2 separate regions of the Homo sapiens genome follow, and region 1 is linked to region 2. Evidence: fine-mapped expression QTL. Tissue or cell type: whole blood. Region 2 holds a variant in brackets; the other region holds the start of a gene. All regions are shown on one strand. Distances are between the middles of the regions.

The links. PIP is the estimated chance that this variant, and not a neighbour inherited with it, causes the effect.
Region 1: it holds the start of PPFIA4, and the variant in region 2 is fine-mapped to the expression of PPFIA4 in whole blood (INTERVAL, PIP 0.95).

Annotation. Positions count from the first base shown.
Region 1 is chr1:203,023,259-203,031,365 of GRCh38, reverse strand. It overlaps PPFIA4 (PPFI scaffold protein A4), which reads right to left and starts at 4,875. Exons shown (of 30, transcript NM_001304331.2): 1 at 4,737-4,875. It overlaps TMEM183A (transmembrane protein 183A), which reads right to left. Exons shown (of 8, transcript NM_138391.6): 8 at 6,518-8,107. RefSeq lists an enhancer at 4,428-4,949 and a silencer at 4,776-5,085.
Region 2 is chr1:203,099,274-203,107,380 of GRCh38, reverse strand. No RefSeq gene overlaps it. Among named protein-coding and RNA genes, the nearest start is that of MYOG, 17 kb to the right of the region's middle. The variant T/C (reference allele first, on the strand shown) is at 4,612.

The DNA of each region.
Region 1 (8,107 bases), 76 kb after region 2:
AGTGGTAGTTCATGCCTCGGGCATAAGCCCTCGGTGCAGTAGCACTTTGGAAGGCCAAGGCAGGGAGATTGCTTAAGCTCAGGACTTAGAAACCAGCCTGGGCAACATGGCAAAACCCCATCTCTACTAAAAATATGAAAACTAGCTGGGCATGGTGGCATGCACCTGTATTCCCAGCTACTCGGGAGACTGAGGTGGGAGGAGCACTTGAACCCAGGAGGTTGAGGCTGCAGTGAGCCATGATCATGCCACTGCACTCCAGCCTGGGCAATAGGGAGAGAGAGGGGAAAAGGGGACCGAGAGAGAGAGAGAGTATATGTTGTATGTATGTCTGTGTATAAAGGTATGGTCATAAGAATGGCATCCTGAGAGCACAGGCATGAGAGCAAGTAGGTATATAGACTCATGACAGTGTGTAGATGTGTGTGGTCATAAGTACATCAGGGATCTTGACTGCATATAATTGTGGTCATGAGAACACATGTGTGGGTACACAGCCATGACAGTAAATGTGTGTGGTCATACATGCATAAGCATCTGGGATTCATAACATCATACATGCTCCCAGGAGCACATGGGAGCTGTGAGAGCTTGTGCAAGTATGCGTGTGTGATCATGAAAGTGTATTGCTGCTCATGAGACAGCGTAAGTCCACGTGTGGCCTCGAACCTATGTGAGAAGGTATAATCGAGAGAGGAGGGAGGGATGGGGTGATACTGAAAGAATGAAAGCTCCACTTACTCCAGGGGCTCTGCCCCAAAGTAGGACCAAAAATTTGGGGCACTCCACAACTAGCCTAGTTTAAGCTGAAGTCATGGAACTGGGGCCATCCCATCTTTCTACCTACCCCCACCCATCAGGGATGCACTGCACCATCTCCCAAGCCCAGGCCTCCATGTCCATGAGATTTCTGGGGTCACCCCCCTGCATGTCCCAAAATGCCCACTCCTCACGGAACAGCTCATGCAAAGCTCCAGGCCCGGCCCCACTCCCCAGGCCTCCACTCCCAGCAGCGCTCCTCTAGGCCAAAGGAGAGCCATCTTCTGAAGCAGCTGCTGAGGCCCTCTCCCATCCAGCCTCACCTCACACCTGGACTCAGAAGGGCTCTCGGAGGTCACACAGGCCACTTCCCACCCTGTGTGGGAGTTCCTTTCACAACATCCCTGGCAGCCCAGTCTTGACTTGATTATCCTTCAGGAACAAGCAGCTCACTATCAAATGAGGAAGGCTTCATCGTTCTAAGGAAGCTTTTTCTTAAATTGAATGGAAAACCCATCTCTCTTTGAAATGACAGTTATCTATCTGAAGACAGTGGCCATGAAGGCACATCAAGTATATATCTAACTTATGAGAATTCAACTCTTAACAGCTGGGCGAAATAAGCAATAAAGGCCTCTAAAATCAAATCAGCTATTTCATCTGACACTTCACTACAAAATCATATTGTGCGTATGCACTCTTTGTAAAATCACTCTACAGTAGTATATACAGTATCTATTTACATAATATAGAATACATATATACCATATCTATACATTCATATTACTGTTCAGGGTTATAAACCCATATGCCATGCTTTATGAGAGACTGGGAAGTTTTCACTTCATCTACTGCCCACAGAATCTAATGCCCCCAAAGGGATGTAACACCAGTGTCCTGGGTCCCCAGAGGCTTCGCTGCTCCAGGTTAAATATCTCCAGTGGCAAGGAGGCCCTGCTTCATGGAACTCAGGGGATCAGAAGACAGACCTCTTCAATTCAATCCAATGATCACTTACTGAGTGATTTCCATGCATCCGATACTGTTATGAAAGCAAAAGACATGTAAGACAGAAAGTTCACAGGCTACTTGAGAGAACACAGATACACATGTAATCACTGGAGAGCAGTACAGAGAAGCATGTGACCAAACACTCAGTCTCTGGCACAGCCAGGGGGTCAGTGCTGAGCACCACGTGGAGTTTGACCAACGGAATTAACTGGTGGCAGCTTCTCCTCCAACTCTCTCAGAACGAAGCATCCCCAGCCAAGGCCTCTCAGCCACCAAGTGAAAGGCAGATGGCTATTCCACGCTACAGCTGACTTCACCTGGGGGGATGGAGACACCTCAAGGAGGCCCCGAGGTTGCAGCACCCGAGCCTCTCTGAAGGCAGAGCAATGAGCTGGGCAGCAATCGTGCTTCTTGTGCAGTGGGCCAGCAGCCAGGCAACAAACGGGGAGGTCTCAGGCTCAGACCAGCCCTGGAGTCTCCTGCCATCCTCGCTTAGAGCTCCTTCCCCCACTGCTGTTTCCCCCACCAGCCCTGTCCCTGTGACATTCTCAGTTGCCTCAGGCCCCTCCCAGTACAGCAAATGCAGAGGGTCCCCTAGAAGCAGCCCCTTCCACAGTACATCAAGGACCATGGTCCCTCTGAATCCTCCACTCTGCTGGCCACCCGAAGTCCCACGCTCCTGTGAGCCAGCACCGTATGCCCTCCAGAGCTAATTATAGGTCCGTGAGCTAGCAGGCCAGAGGGGGACAGATGGTGACTTCATGTGGCTGCAATACACACTTGTCCCTCCCTCTGACCCCACTCCCTCCCCTCCATTTCTCTCAATTCCCTACGTAGGACCCAGACTTTGAGGCAGCTTTCACTCCCTCAGTCCTCCCTGCTCCTCACCTCTCCTCCTCTCCAACACATGCACAAGCACACACACTCACACACGCGTGTGCACACACACACACACCCCATACCACTCAATTGCCACACCTTGTTTCTACAGCAACTCACCTATGGAGCCAACACAGTAGGGCCTAAAGCCCAGGGAAGAATGTCCTTGGCATTCGAAGGCCTCGGCTAGCTGCCCATATCTTAAAACCCCCTTAACACCCAGCTCCCCAGCCCTGCTGAGCCTTCATCCCCACCTCATCACCACCACAGCCTGACTACTCATTCTCTTGCCTAGCTCTAGCTCTGCCATCCTCAGAGGCTCTGTGAGGACCTATAAGCCATCCCTGACAACTCTTTCCAACTCTAAGATTTCAGCAATCAACTCAGAGATGAGACCCAGGAGCCTGGCTGCCTGCCATGCCCTGCCCCTCCAGCCCTCCTTTACAGCCCAGCAGCCAGACCTCATGCACCACACGGTTCTGACATCACGACATGCTCAGCAGCACAAACCCCAACTCCACTGGATGCGAATTCCCTTCTACACCCTCCTCCCCCACACTATTCCATCTTCCAGAGATGGCGTCTCCCACTACACAGAGTGTCTAGGACATTCTTGGCCCCCAATAACCATTTTGTCATTCATTATCTCCTTACTTTGAGATACCGTTTACCCCACGAAGCCTCCTCAAGCCTCAGGACAAAATCTGAGAAAATAACCAAGGGAAATCATTCAAGCTGCCCTTTTGCTTAGGCAGCTTCCCTGGGACTACCTGGCCAGTTAATAGTGGTAGGGGGTGTGTAGGTTGGAGTCTAATTCAGACAGCTGTTTGAAAGCACGTGGACACAGTTCTTTCTTTTTCTAATCCAACAGCAATGTAACAGAATGGGGATGGGCGGTGAGAAGGGTGTTAACAGAATACCTGCTATGTGTGCCTCCTATGTGTACCTTTCAGCTACTCCGTGGCTGTAAATTGCCTTCAGAAGACCTAGCACCGAGCATAGTATCTGGCAGATAGTAGGTGTCCAACAAATGTTTGCTGGATGTTGAGCAAAGTACTAGGTACCAGATCCAAGAACTCTGGAAAGGACTATGGGAAATCCCTGAAACCTGGCTCCTGGAGGGGACCCTTAAGCTCACACCAGGAGGGGATCTCCCTGCGAAGCAGCGCCTCCTTAACCACTTGCTCTCCACACAGAACGGCCCCAACTCTCCTGCTCCTCTGATGGAAACTACCAGCACACCTCTCCTCAAAGGTGACATCAGCTCCTAGTGGCACCTTGTCCTGGATCCCTCCTCCTTCTCGAAGAAAACCACCTACACCATGTCTCCAAGTCCTCCAGCCCGACCTCTCTCTTCCCACCCACCATCAAAACCTCAAAATCTGCGCTGGAAAACATCCCTACTGCGTGGACGTAAGTCAGCGCCCCACTCCCACCCTCCCAGTTCAGGCATCTCTATTCCAGCCCTCTTTTCCTGTTGCGCCCACCCCTGTCCCCACCCCCACCAGGCCTCGGGTTGGCCGCTCCTTCCACCCCACCGCCCTGGCACTGCGGAGATGGGGGCATCTCTGGCACAGACTGAGGCTGGCAGTTCGAGGAATGGAGAGCTAGCGACAGGAACAGGGGTGCTATGAGCAACTCGGGAAAGATTAAGACCCCCGCGAAGAGCGAAGACCTCAGCCCATCAGAATCGCGTCCCCAAAGGAGTGGGGTTGGCCCCGGAGCCGAGAGGCGCTTTTTCTGACTCTCCTGGAGGGGAAATGGGGGCGCAGTCTGCTCCGTTCCCACCGGGAGACTCGCCAACTCGGCCCCCTCCCCTGAAGCCGATGGAGCAGAGGGCGCACTCCACGCCCTCCCCGCAGATCAGGCATCGCCCCTATCCTCACCCCCAAGGGCACAGGGCACCGCAAAGGAGGGCGAGGGGCGGCAGGGTAAGCAGTACCGACGCCTGCCGGAGGTAGCACATACGGAGTCAAAAAGGGCTGTTTCCCGAGGTGCGATAGACGAGACCCCTCCCCAAACTGTCGAGGGGAGCTGGAGATGGGGAAAAGACGCATCCTACCCCAGTCCAGGCTCTGGGCGCTCACCTGCCTGCAAATGCCGAAGGCCAGGCGGCTAGGCTCGGAAGCAGCAGGGAGCCGCCCCCGACCCGTGCAGCCCGACACGTCCTAGAGCCGAGCCGGCGCCGAGGTAGCTGCAGCCTCCGCCGCCCAAGCGCGCGGCCGCGGGGCCCCGCCCCCTTCCTCCGCGGACAACCCCCCCCGGCTCCGCCCCCTAGGCGGGGCTGGGCTGCCGCGACCGAGGCCACGCCTCCCGCCCCCAAGCGCCTCGGGTCCGGGCACGTGACGAGAGCGCCGCTTTGAGGCCGCGCGCCATCTTGGTTCAGCCTAGGAGGTGGCGAAGTGCCAGAGTTTTATTCCGCAGAAGGGTCTCAGGGCCCAGGAGTGCTGCCCACATTCTGCCCCTCCCTCTGAACTCGCCCTTGTTCCTAGTCTAACAGCCCGTTCCCTAAATTGGCCTTAGTCTCGGCCTTGTAATTGTCAAGTTTGTCACCTTTCACGCTTGCTCTCCTGCCCGTTCCTTGCTTTTCCTTTGATCGCACCCATTTTTTAAGTGGGGAAACTTGATATCCGGATACTACATCTGTAGTATGCTCTTCAGTGAATTGTGTCGCTTGCCTTCAGGCACCTGGCTGTTCTAACACTGTTACTACAAAATGAAGGGTTTGTCTATTACATATACATAGTATGAAAACAAGTCTCAAATGCCAAAATTCCTGACTGACAAATTTTAGCTAAGCCTCTCCATTTTCCTGAATTGCTCCCTTACCCTGCCCCCTGTGGCTATTAATGCATCTTTTCCATCTGCTTTGTGAAGTTTCATCACAGTGCCTACTCAATCCTTTACCAATACCCAGTAAGCACCACTAAAAGTGTGAACAATTTTTATATACATGCAATGTGTTCATGTGTGTGTATTTATAGATATATACACAGCATGTTCTATATCAGCAGCAAATGCTATAGTTGAGATCAGTGACACATACAACCTTCTCTCATTTATCTTCCACCCAATATATTCACCATTTGGCATAATTTCCTTGCGTCTCTTTGAAGACAGGGAAATCTTGAGTAATTCTGATCTGAGGGGTGGGTAAGTGAAGCTAAATCTGTGACCCTTGAACAACAGGGCCTTCAACTGCACAGGGCCAGTTGCATGCAGATTTTCTTCCTTCCCCGCCACCCCTGAGACAGCAAGACTACCCCTCCTCTTCTTACTCGTCAGCCTGCTCAACATGATGACCCACTTAATGAACAGTAAATGTATTTTCTCTTCTTTGATTTTCTTAATAACATTTTCTTTTCTCGAGCTTATTATAATAAGGTATATACTACATATACAAAATGCACATTAATCAACTGTTTATGTTATCAATAAGGCTTCCAGTCAACAGTAGGCTATTAAGTTTTCGGGCAGTCAAAAGTCATAGCAGATTTTCAACTGTGTGAGGGTCTGTGTCCATAACTCTCACAGCGTTCAAGGATCAATTTATGTTGCTTGACAGAGCAAAATCACAGTATATAACCTGTAGTCCAGAAAGTTCTAATTCTTCTTCGGGTGGTCTGGGGTCCTCACCAAAAGGAAATCCCTGAGACACTTCACATCCTGTCACTAATAAAGCATGTATCATGCTAGAAACGGCAACTCAGCCAATGCAGAGGAAGGCTGAAGCCAAGATAACGACTGGTAACACATTTTACCAAATGTTTGTCAATATTATGCTGAGAGAGAGCTGAGGCAGTATCTAGTACTGTATCTGTCACCATACCATGGAATTTGACACAAAAAACTCAGAGCTGAGTCAGAATACAATTATTAAGCCAAATTTATTTCACCCCCTTTTTAAAGGTACTCCTAAGCGGGGAACAATGCACCAAGACACTCCTGCTCCATGGCATCTTTAGTTCAGGCAACCTGGCAGGGACTGTGCTTCTCCCCTCCTGCCTCAAAGAGGCAACTTTTAATTGTAGAGATCTGCAAAGTGCTCATTGTCCTTAGGTTGTCTGTTATCACTCAAATGCCCAAATTCTGTTTTTGACTGACCCAGGCTCACTCTGTGTGAACAGTTTTAATACCACCCTCAACGTGGGATAAGGTTAGCTGTTAGCAGCAAAATTAAGCAGATGCTTTCTAGGAATATTCCTAGGGAAGATGGTAAAAAAAAAAAAACAAAAATGTGAATTTAGCAGTTTGCCTCACAAGATTTTCACTTTTAAAGAATACTGTCTTAATGCCCACCTCCTGGCAATATCCAGGTAATATCCAGCTCACTGGTTAATTTTGGATGGTGGAGGGTGGGAGGAGAGACAAGCAGCAAGGTTTTCTCCTTAGCAAAACAGAAAAACGTGATTCTCTTCTCAGAGTACACCTGAACAATAGGAGTCATCTAAACAACAGGAGGACATAAGCATTTCTGCATGGACGGAAGACCAGGCTTCTGTAGGCACACAGGATGACAGCAGAAGCAGCACAGTACAGGGCAGAGCAAAGTCGCTAAGTGCTTATGGTTCAAGAGGCTGGTTTCAACATGCAATGCATTTTGTTAATGACGTTTTAGCCTAATAAATGCCCTTCTAACAGTTCAAGGAAAGGGTCACTATCCTTCCTGAAATAACTTTCTTGGTTTTACATTTTATTCAGAAATACATATTTAAAAGATCATTTCATCAATCTTCTAAACTTTTTTGGCTGATTAGAATAACATATACCACAATCAATTTTTTACTTACCCTTTTACTTTTTTTTATCTATGTACACTCTGCCTACTCCTTTTTACCACCATCTACCACAAGAAAAATGAGACTCATCTTTTAAACTTATGGTACAACAAAAAGACCTGGGTCAGAATCTTGGCTCTGCATTTACTGGTGTTATAGGTACAGTCACTAATTCCGTTTTCTCAACTATAAAATGGGAATAATATCACCTACTTTGCAAGACTGTGAGAAGTAGAGATACTATGTAAAGTTCCTAGTATAGTACCAAGGGTATAAAGTCATCATCACCATTATCAGCCTCATGCAAAAAAATACCTAAAATCCAAAACTGCCAAAAGAAAATGTATGCAATAAATATCACAAATTATTTTTTAAAAAAGATACACAAGTCAATATGGTAAGATTCTGAAAACCCTGTCACCTGCTTTATTTCTGGAGAAGGGTAAAGGGAGAAGGGAAAATATTCACTTGAATTTGAGGGGCAGCTAAACTGGAAGCAACAATTTCAGGCCTCTAAGGTTCCTCTGATCCATAAGGGAATGCTGAAACTTCCTTGTTTGGAGATTCAAAGAGTTTAATTTTTCCCTACAGCAAGATCAACAATTTTCACTGGGATAAAAGAATAAAGAACAAACTCAATAGCACCAAATGGGGTTTTAACACAGAAAACAGGGCCACTC
Region 2 (8,107 bases):
TATTAGAAATAAAGCCTTAATACATACAATAGAAATGAAGCATGAAAATCAATAATCAAAGCATCCATTTCAAGAACCTATTAAAGAAGAGCAAGTTAAACCCCAAAGAAATGCAAGAGAGAGTATAATAAAGATAAGAGCATGAATCAATGAAACAGTTGGAAAAAAAAAAACACAGAATAAAAAAATCAACAAAGCCAAAAGTTGATTCTTTGTAAAGACTAATCAAAAACTTTTCAAAGACAAAACAGAGAAAACATATATTCCAACATCAGGAGTTAAAAAAGGACCATCACTACAAATCAGATCCTACAAATGTTAAAAATGTAAGGGGACGTTATGAAGAACTGCCAATACATTTGAAACTTTTCACAAAATGGAAAAATTCTTGAAATACACAAGTTACGAAAATTAACACTAAGATAAATAGAACTTATTATGTGTCCTATTTCTAATGAAGAAATTAAATCTGTAATTTTAAAATTTCCTAACTCTAGGACTACATGGATTCCCAGTTGAACTCTTCTAAGTATTTAATAAAGAACTGGGCATAAATTTTCCACAAATACTTCAAGATAATAGAAAAAGAAAAACACTCCCCAATTTGTTTTATGAGGATAGTATTTATAAATGTGGTACTAAAACCTGACAAAACTTTGTTAAGAAAGGAAAATTATATATCAGTCTCCCTCATGAACATCATTGAAAGTCTAAACATAATATTAGCTAATCAAATACAATGATATAAAAATTATATATAAAAACGACTTGACATTTAAAAGCCAATCAATGTAATTCACCACATTTACAGAATAAAGGAAAAGAATGAATGATCTCAATAGATGCAGAAAATGCATTCGATGCTTATTTATAGTAAAATACTTTCAAAACTAGAAGTAGAAAGGAACTCCATTAATCTGATTTTGTTAAAATGTTTTTAAAATAACACCAAATATTATGCTAAGTAGTAAAATATATAAAGATTTCCCCTTTGAAATCAGGAACAAGATAAGGATGTCTGCTAATATGATTTCAATTCAACACTACACTGGAGATATAGCCAGTACAATAAGGCAATACAAAATTAAAATGAATAAGAAATGTAAAACCAAAAATCTGTCATTATTAGAGAATAACATGACTGTGAATATAAAAAGTCCAAAAGAACTTATATATGTAAACTATTAAAACTTAGAAGTGCATTTACCAAGGTCACTGGATATATGGCTAATATTAAAAAGTAATTGTATCCCTATATGCTAGCAATACACAATTTTAAAATAAAAAACTTACAGAGCCTATATATATCAGTATCAAAAATCATATACCTAGGAATAAATCTGGTGAAAAATATTAAAATTCTGTACAATGAAGACTACAGGGCATTACTGAGAGATATTATAGAAAATCTAAACACATAGAGAGATACACCAAATTCATGGGTTAAAAGACTCAATATGGTGAAGATGTTAGTCCTTTCCCAAATTCTAGGAGTCTTTTTGTTTGTTGTTTGCTTGGTTGGTTTTCTGGTAGAAATTGGCAAGCTGGTTCTAAATGAAGAAGACAGTCTTGAAGAAGAACAAAACAACTGGTGCAAGGGTAGATGGGAGACAATATAGTCCAGAAATGCATATATATAGTTACTTGATTTTCAACGAAGATATCATCGCATTGCAGTGGGGAAACAATCATCTTTTCAATAAATCATATGATGTCGGTTGAACATCCATATGATGGGAAAAAGTAAATGTTTATTCCTCCACCTCAAACCACATACAAAATTCAGTTCCAGGCATATGAAGACATATGTGTGAAACATAAAACAATAAAACTTCTGGGAGAAAACAGAAAAACAGTATCTGCGTGACCTTACAATGACCAAAGATTTAACAGGAATGAAAAGCATTAACCCTAAAGTAAGAGACTGACAAACTAGACTTCATTTAAATAAAAATTTTCTGTTCACCAAAAGACATGCTTAAGAGAGTGAAAAAGCAAACCAGAGGAGAAGAAGACATTTGTAGTTACACACACACACACACACACACACCACATTACAAAAGACTACCATTAAGAATATCTGAAGAACTTCTGCAATCAATGAGAAAATGACAAATGATCCAATAGAAAAATGGGCAAACTACTTGAACAGGAATTTCACAAATGAAGAAATCTGAATGACCAGTAAACATCTGAAAAAATGTTCAACTTCATTAGTCATCAGGAATATTTAACTTTTAACACAAGAGATACCATTTTATTACCTCCAGATAAACAATTTAAAAAATTAAGTCTGACAACACCACCATTCCTGGAAGTATAAGTTGGTGCAACCACTTTAGAAAAGAATTTTTACACTATTTAGCAACATTTAAAATGCATATCCTCTGTGACTCAGCAATTTCACTTCTATATATTATATATACCCTAGAACAACTTTTCTGTGTAGGAAATCAAGAGACATGAAGTAGAATACTCATTGCAGCATAGTAATTAGTACTCCCAAACTGGGGAAAAATACTTTCCATTGGTAATAAAATTGAGGAATAGTTGTGGTTTATTTATACAATGGAATTCTGCACTACAATGAAAAGAAAATGAATTGCAACACACACAACACAGATGAAAGAAGTTAGTCACAAAAGAAGATGTATATACTTTGACTCCATTAACAAAATATTTAAAAACATATAAAATCAAACCACATATCATTTAAGGATACAAATAAACAATAATAAATCTACAAAGAAAAGCAAGGAAATTAGAAGCATGAAATTAACAATGACTTAGCTCAGCTCAAGGAAGGAATGGGTAAGATTATTCAAAGAAAATGCTGCCAGGTTATCTTTCTTAAACCGGATTGGCAGGGATATGAATGTTGTTGGATTATTTTATACATTATAATTTGTAAATATCTCCTTCTATTTAGTAAAATTTGGTACAACAATTATAACTTTATGGATGTCGGATCATCTGGCTCAAGATGGAAAAAAACATGGCTGCCTCTGTACTAGAATTCATTAACCCAGCAGACCATCAGTCATCGGCATTGTCTGCAGGAAGCCCCTGATGACATGTTTTTCCTAAGAAGAGGGAATGTCCTGGCCATTCTGTTTATATAGTGTTATTAGTCAATTTGGGCTGCCATAACAAAATATCATAGGCTAAGTGGCTTTAGCAACAGAAATTTATTTTCTCACAGTTCTGGAGGCCAAAACTGAGATCAGTGTGCCAGCATGGTCCAACTGTGGTGAGGGCTTTCTTCCTGAATTGCAGATAGCTGCCTTCTCCCTGTGCACTCATCTGGCATTTTCTTGATGTATGCATGGCCCGTGGGTGCAGACGGGTAGTGAGGGAAAGAGAGTGCGTGTGCACGCAAGCTCATTAGGTCACTGATCCCATCATGAGGGCCCCACACTCATGACTTCATGTAATCTTAATTACCTCTCAAAGGCCTTATTTCCAAAGACCATCACACTGGGGGTTAGGGCTTCAGCACATGAATTTTGGGAACACAAGCATTTAGTCCCTAACATATAGCCACCCAGATTAGCTAATTATCACTTTGGCAGATTGAGAGGGGCCAAAGTGCATAGGACTTATCAAAAGTATGTTTTCTTAGAGGGTGAGAATGACAGTGAGGAAAGAGCCCAAGGATTCTCCCCTCAACCCCCAACGAGGTTGAGGATTTGCTTGGCTTTGAAACTTTGAAGCCCCTCTGCTGTGAGTGGTGCCTGCCTCTGGTACCCTCATGTTTTCCGTGCACATTTCATCTGCCTGGCAGCTGCTGGCCCTGTCCAGCCAATGGCTCAGGAGGGAGCACACCGCTTCTGTGCAATTTCTTGAAATGGGCACTTCCTTCTAAGAGAACTGTTCCCCAGAGAGTTCCTCGACATCTGCAGTGATGGAGAGTCCACGCACAGGCTTTGGGATGGGGGAGGCAGCACAAAGGGAAGAAGCTTTAAATTCTAAAGCAGAGAAAACAAAACTCCTGCCAGAAGCAGGGGAAGATGGGGAAGGAGGCAGGGATCTAGGAAGCTTCTGCTTTGGTCTCAGTATTGGGGTTTCATAGCACAGATGGCCAGGGTTATTTATAACTTGCAACAGGCAGAGTTGAGATCGGTGAAATGCAAGAGGCTTGGCTGACAATGGTTGGGGCCAGGGTAGGGATTGAGACCTCCAGAAGCCCTCCTAGAATGCAGGACTTTGTTTTAGGGATGGGGGTACCACCATGGAAAAGTTATGGAGCCAAAGCCCCCTCCTACAGGCTAGATGAGAAGTCTTCCAGAGAGCTACTGCTTTTAGGAATAATCATAGTCCCATTAATAATAATAAATAATAGCTAACATTTTATTAGCTGACTGGGTGCCAGGCAATAAGCTAAGTGCGTTATTATCCCCATTTCCAAAATGAGAAAACTGAGGCTTGGTGAGGGTAAGGAACCAACCTAAGGCCTCATATCCATAAGTAGTGAAGCTCTCTATCTGCTCTGTATGGGAAGGAGGAGAGGCCAAGGGCCTAACATCACATCTATGTCACAGCTATGTCACATCAGCCCTTTGCCACCCAACAGAGGCAAGATCACTGGGGTAGAAAATTGGGCAAGGATCT[T/C]TGATAGGGGGGCAGTGACAGGAATCTGGAAGGATCTGGGGCAGGCAGAGGTCCAGAAGGGAGACTCTAGACAACGTGTGTGTGTGTGTGTGTGTGTGTGTGTGTGTGTGTACCTAAGTGATCACCTAGGTAAAGGTGGTGTGATTATATGTAGAAGATATTAAATGAATATTTCCTGGCTCTTGAAGACAAGGCAGGCAGGCTGCTAAAGTCCAATGTGGCTTACTCCATTCTGCCATCTGTCACTTTAGACAAGGACTTCCTCCTCCCTACTTCTCAGTTTCTCCTCTTTAAAATGATGCAGTTGGCCTAAGATTCTTCCCAGTTCTGATAATTTGTGCATCTGTGATTTCACTGTGGTTAGCACATGTGGAGGAGGGGGAAGGCTGGATGTCAAAGGTCAAAGGTTGGCTATCAACCACCAAGGCTGGCAGCCAAGCCCTGGCAAGGACAGCCAGCAAGATCAAAGCTAAAGGAAAACCAGTCAGGAGGCACTGTCTGCTCCCCAAGCTCGAGCCCAGGAGCAGCATGTGCAGGGAGTGAGGCGCCACAAGCACAACTGATCCTGCCAGCACCCACTCCCAGGGCTCCAGGCACTGGTGCCAAGTACCCCACCAATGGGTGGATGGAATGCTCAGAAATTCACAACTCCAGGAGCAAGGCTGTCTGTCTCAGGATAAACAAAGCCCCAGGCAACTTGATGCAGCTCACCTACTCTTCCGGCTGCAACAACCTTTTTGAAGGTCAAGTCATCCAGCCCCCGGAAGCAGTCTACAGTTCTACGTTCCTCTGAATTACATCCTTGTTTTTTCCCAAGGTCAAAAGGGCCAGTAATTCACCCCTGGTCATAGAGCACGTGGCTATTCACAGGATTCAGATCTCTGAATTCTCACTCTGTGCCACAGAAGGGACTTGCTTCAATGACATGGACTTTATTGCTTAGTTTCACTACTCAGTGAGTATGTAGCGAATATCCACAATGTGCACTTGCTGAGTATCTACTGTATACACACTCTAAAGAGGAGTTGTCACCAAGGTTGTCCAAGGTCAACCTTAATGGCTATAGATCTTAATGGAGAAGACTGTCCACTGACTTTGGAGTAAGCCAGGCTGGGTTCTAATCCTGCCTTTATCTTCCAATTGCACCACAGCAAATTTCTTAACCATACAATATGATTTGGCTCTGTGTCCCCACCCAAATCTCATGTCGAATTGTAATCCCCACCTGTTGAAAGTAGAGCTTGATGGGAGGTAATTGGATCATGGGGGCAGTTTCTAAGGGGTTAGCACCATCCCCCTAGTGCTCTCTCGTGATAGAGTTCTCGTGAGAACTGGCTGGGTTTTTTGTTTTTTGTTTGTTTGTTTGTTATTTGAGATGGAATCTTGCTCTGTTACCCAGGCTGGAGTGCAGTGGCATGATCTCGGCTCACTACAACCTCTGCCTCCCAGGTTCAAGCAATTATCCTGCCTTAGCCTCCCAAGTAGCTGGGATTACAGGCACCTACCACCACAGCTGGCTAATTTTTGTATTTTTAGTAGAGACGGGGTTTCACCACATGTTGGCCAGGCTGTTCTCGAACTCCTGACCTCGTGATCCATCCGCCTCGGCCTCCTGAAGTGCTGGGATTACAGGCATGAGCCACCGCGCCCGGCTGAGATCTGGTTGTTTAAAAGTGTGTGGCACTTCCCCCAATCCGCCTGCCACTATGTGAAGAAGGTGCTTCCTTCTCCTTCACTTTCCGCCATAATTGTAAGTTTCCTCAGGCCTCCCAGTCATGCTTCCTGTACAGCCTGCAGAACTGTGAGTCAATTAAACCTCTTTTCTTCCTAAATTACCCAGTATCAGGTAGTTCCTTACAGCAGTGTGAAAACAGACTAATACACCATGACTCCCAGTCTGAAAACTGGTAATAATACCTAGCTCATAGACTCATTGTAGGGACAAAATAGTTAATGTGCCTAATGCATTTATCACAGTACCCAGTAAACAGGAAGGTCCTAAATGATGATGCAACTGTTGATGATGGCATGGTGATGATGGTCACATTGTCCCCCTGAGGCAATCCTACTCTGGACCCAGGTACTTCCTTGACCATCCAACCCCTACCAGGTGACATTACATGAAGAATGCAGCTGGCTCTAGGTTCAAGAATTTAAAACAAACAAACAAACAAACCACAAAACCATTGCTCCTTGCCCTTGGACCAGGAAGTATGAGAGCTCACAAGCCAACAAACAAACAGCTGCTTTCAGAAATCTAGTAACAGCCAAGAAAGATGAGGCCCGTGTTGTGGCCGCAGCCCTCCTGAAAGGGCAGGGTAGGAGGACCCCGAATCAGGGAAGGACAGGTTCCTGAGCTCCTATCCCAGGCTGGCCCCTGACCCACCTCCCAATGCCTCTACTTCCTCACCTGTAAGCTCAGGAAAGCAAACCACAGGTGAGATGAGCCACAGCTAGAAATCTGAAGTCAGGGCTTTGTCTCCACTGTGGGGGAGCCAAGATGGGCTGACGATGTGGAACAAGTGAATCACTAAATGTCTGGCTGCATGAACTCCTTCAGTGGTGTGAGGACACAAGGGTTGGCACTCTAGAAATGGGAACAGCCTGCTGATAAAAATCCTTGTGCCTGGGAAGCAAGTCCACCCAACCCTGCCCCTACCACTAGGAAGCCATCTGCTTTCAGAAACAGAAAAGCAAATGGGTCCTGACTTGGGCTGGCCCAAGCCCCCACAGAAAGGGGAATGCAGACAGGCAGGGTGGCTCAGGGAAAACACTCCAGGCACCAGGGTCTGGAGGGTGGAACACAGTGTTCCCACGGCCCGCTATGCAGGGAACGCAGCAGATGGAACTGCACTGACTCCAGGGAAACATTTGGTTCCTTGTCTCACACCAACTCACTGGAAAGGATGGTAAGGAAGGCCTGAGAATAGACAAACAAAAGAGAAGGTCAGGGAAAGGCAAGGAAGCCAAGCCAGGAAGCTGAGCAGAAATTTCCTCAGATCCTTCCAGAGGCCCTGAGCAGGTGGTGACAAAATGCCAACACCAGAAGGAACTTTCTAGAACAATAAATCCAATTCCCTTATTTTATGGATCAGGAAACAGGTCCCTAGGGAAGTCAGCACTGTGCAGTGGAAAAAGACTGTAGAGTCAGGGAGATGTGAACTCCATAGCTGTGTGATTTGGTGCAAGTTTATTAACCTCTCTGATCCTCAGGTTTGTCTTTTGTAAAATGGGGACCCTGTCATCTCCACAGTCATGCCGTGAGAAGGGAGTGAGGTACTCAGCACAGAGCAGAGCCTCAATAAATACCGGCTTCCAATTCTCAAAGTCACATACGGGTTAATGGCAGAGCTAGAACTAGAATCCAACGTCCGAACTTCCCACACTCCTTACTCCAGTTACAGAAAAGAGTCAAAGAAAAGACATGCCTGTGATGTGCCACTGGGGGTGGGGTAGGGAGAGGGCAATGAGATGTTAGAAGGGATTTTCTCATGAC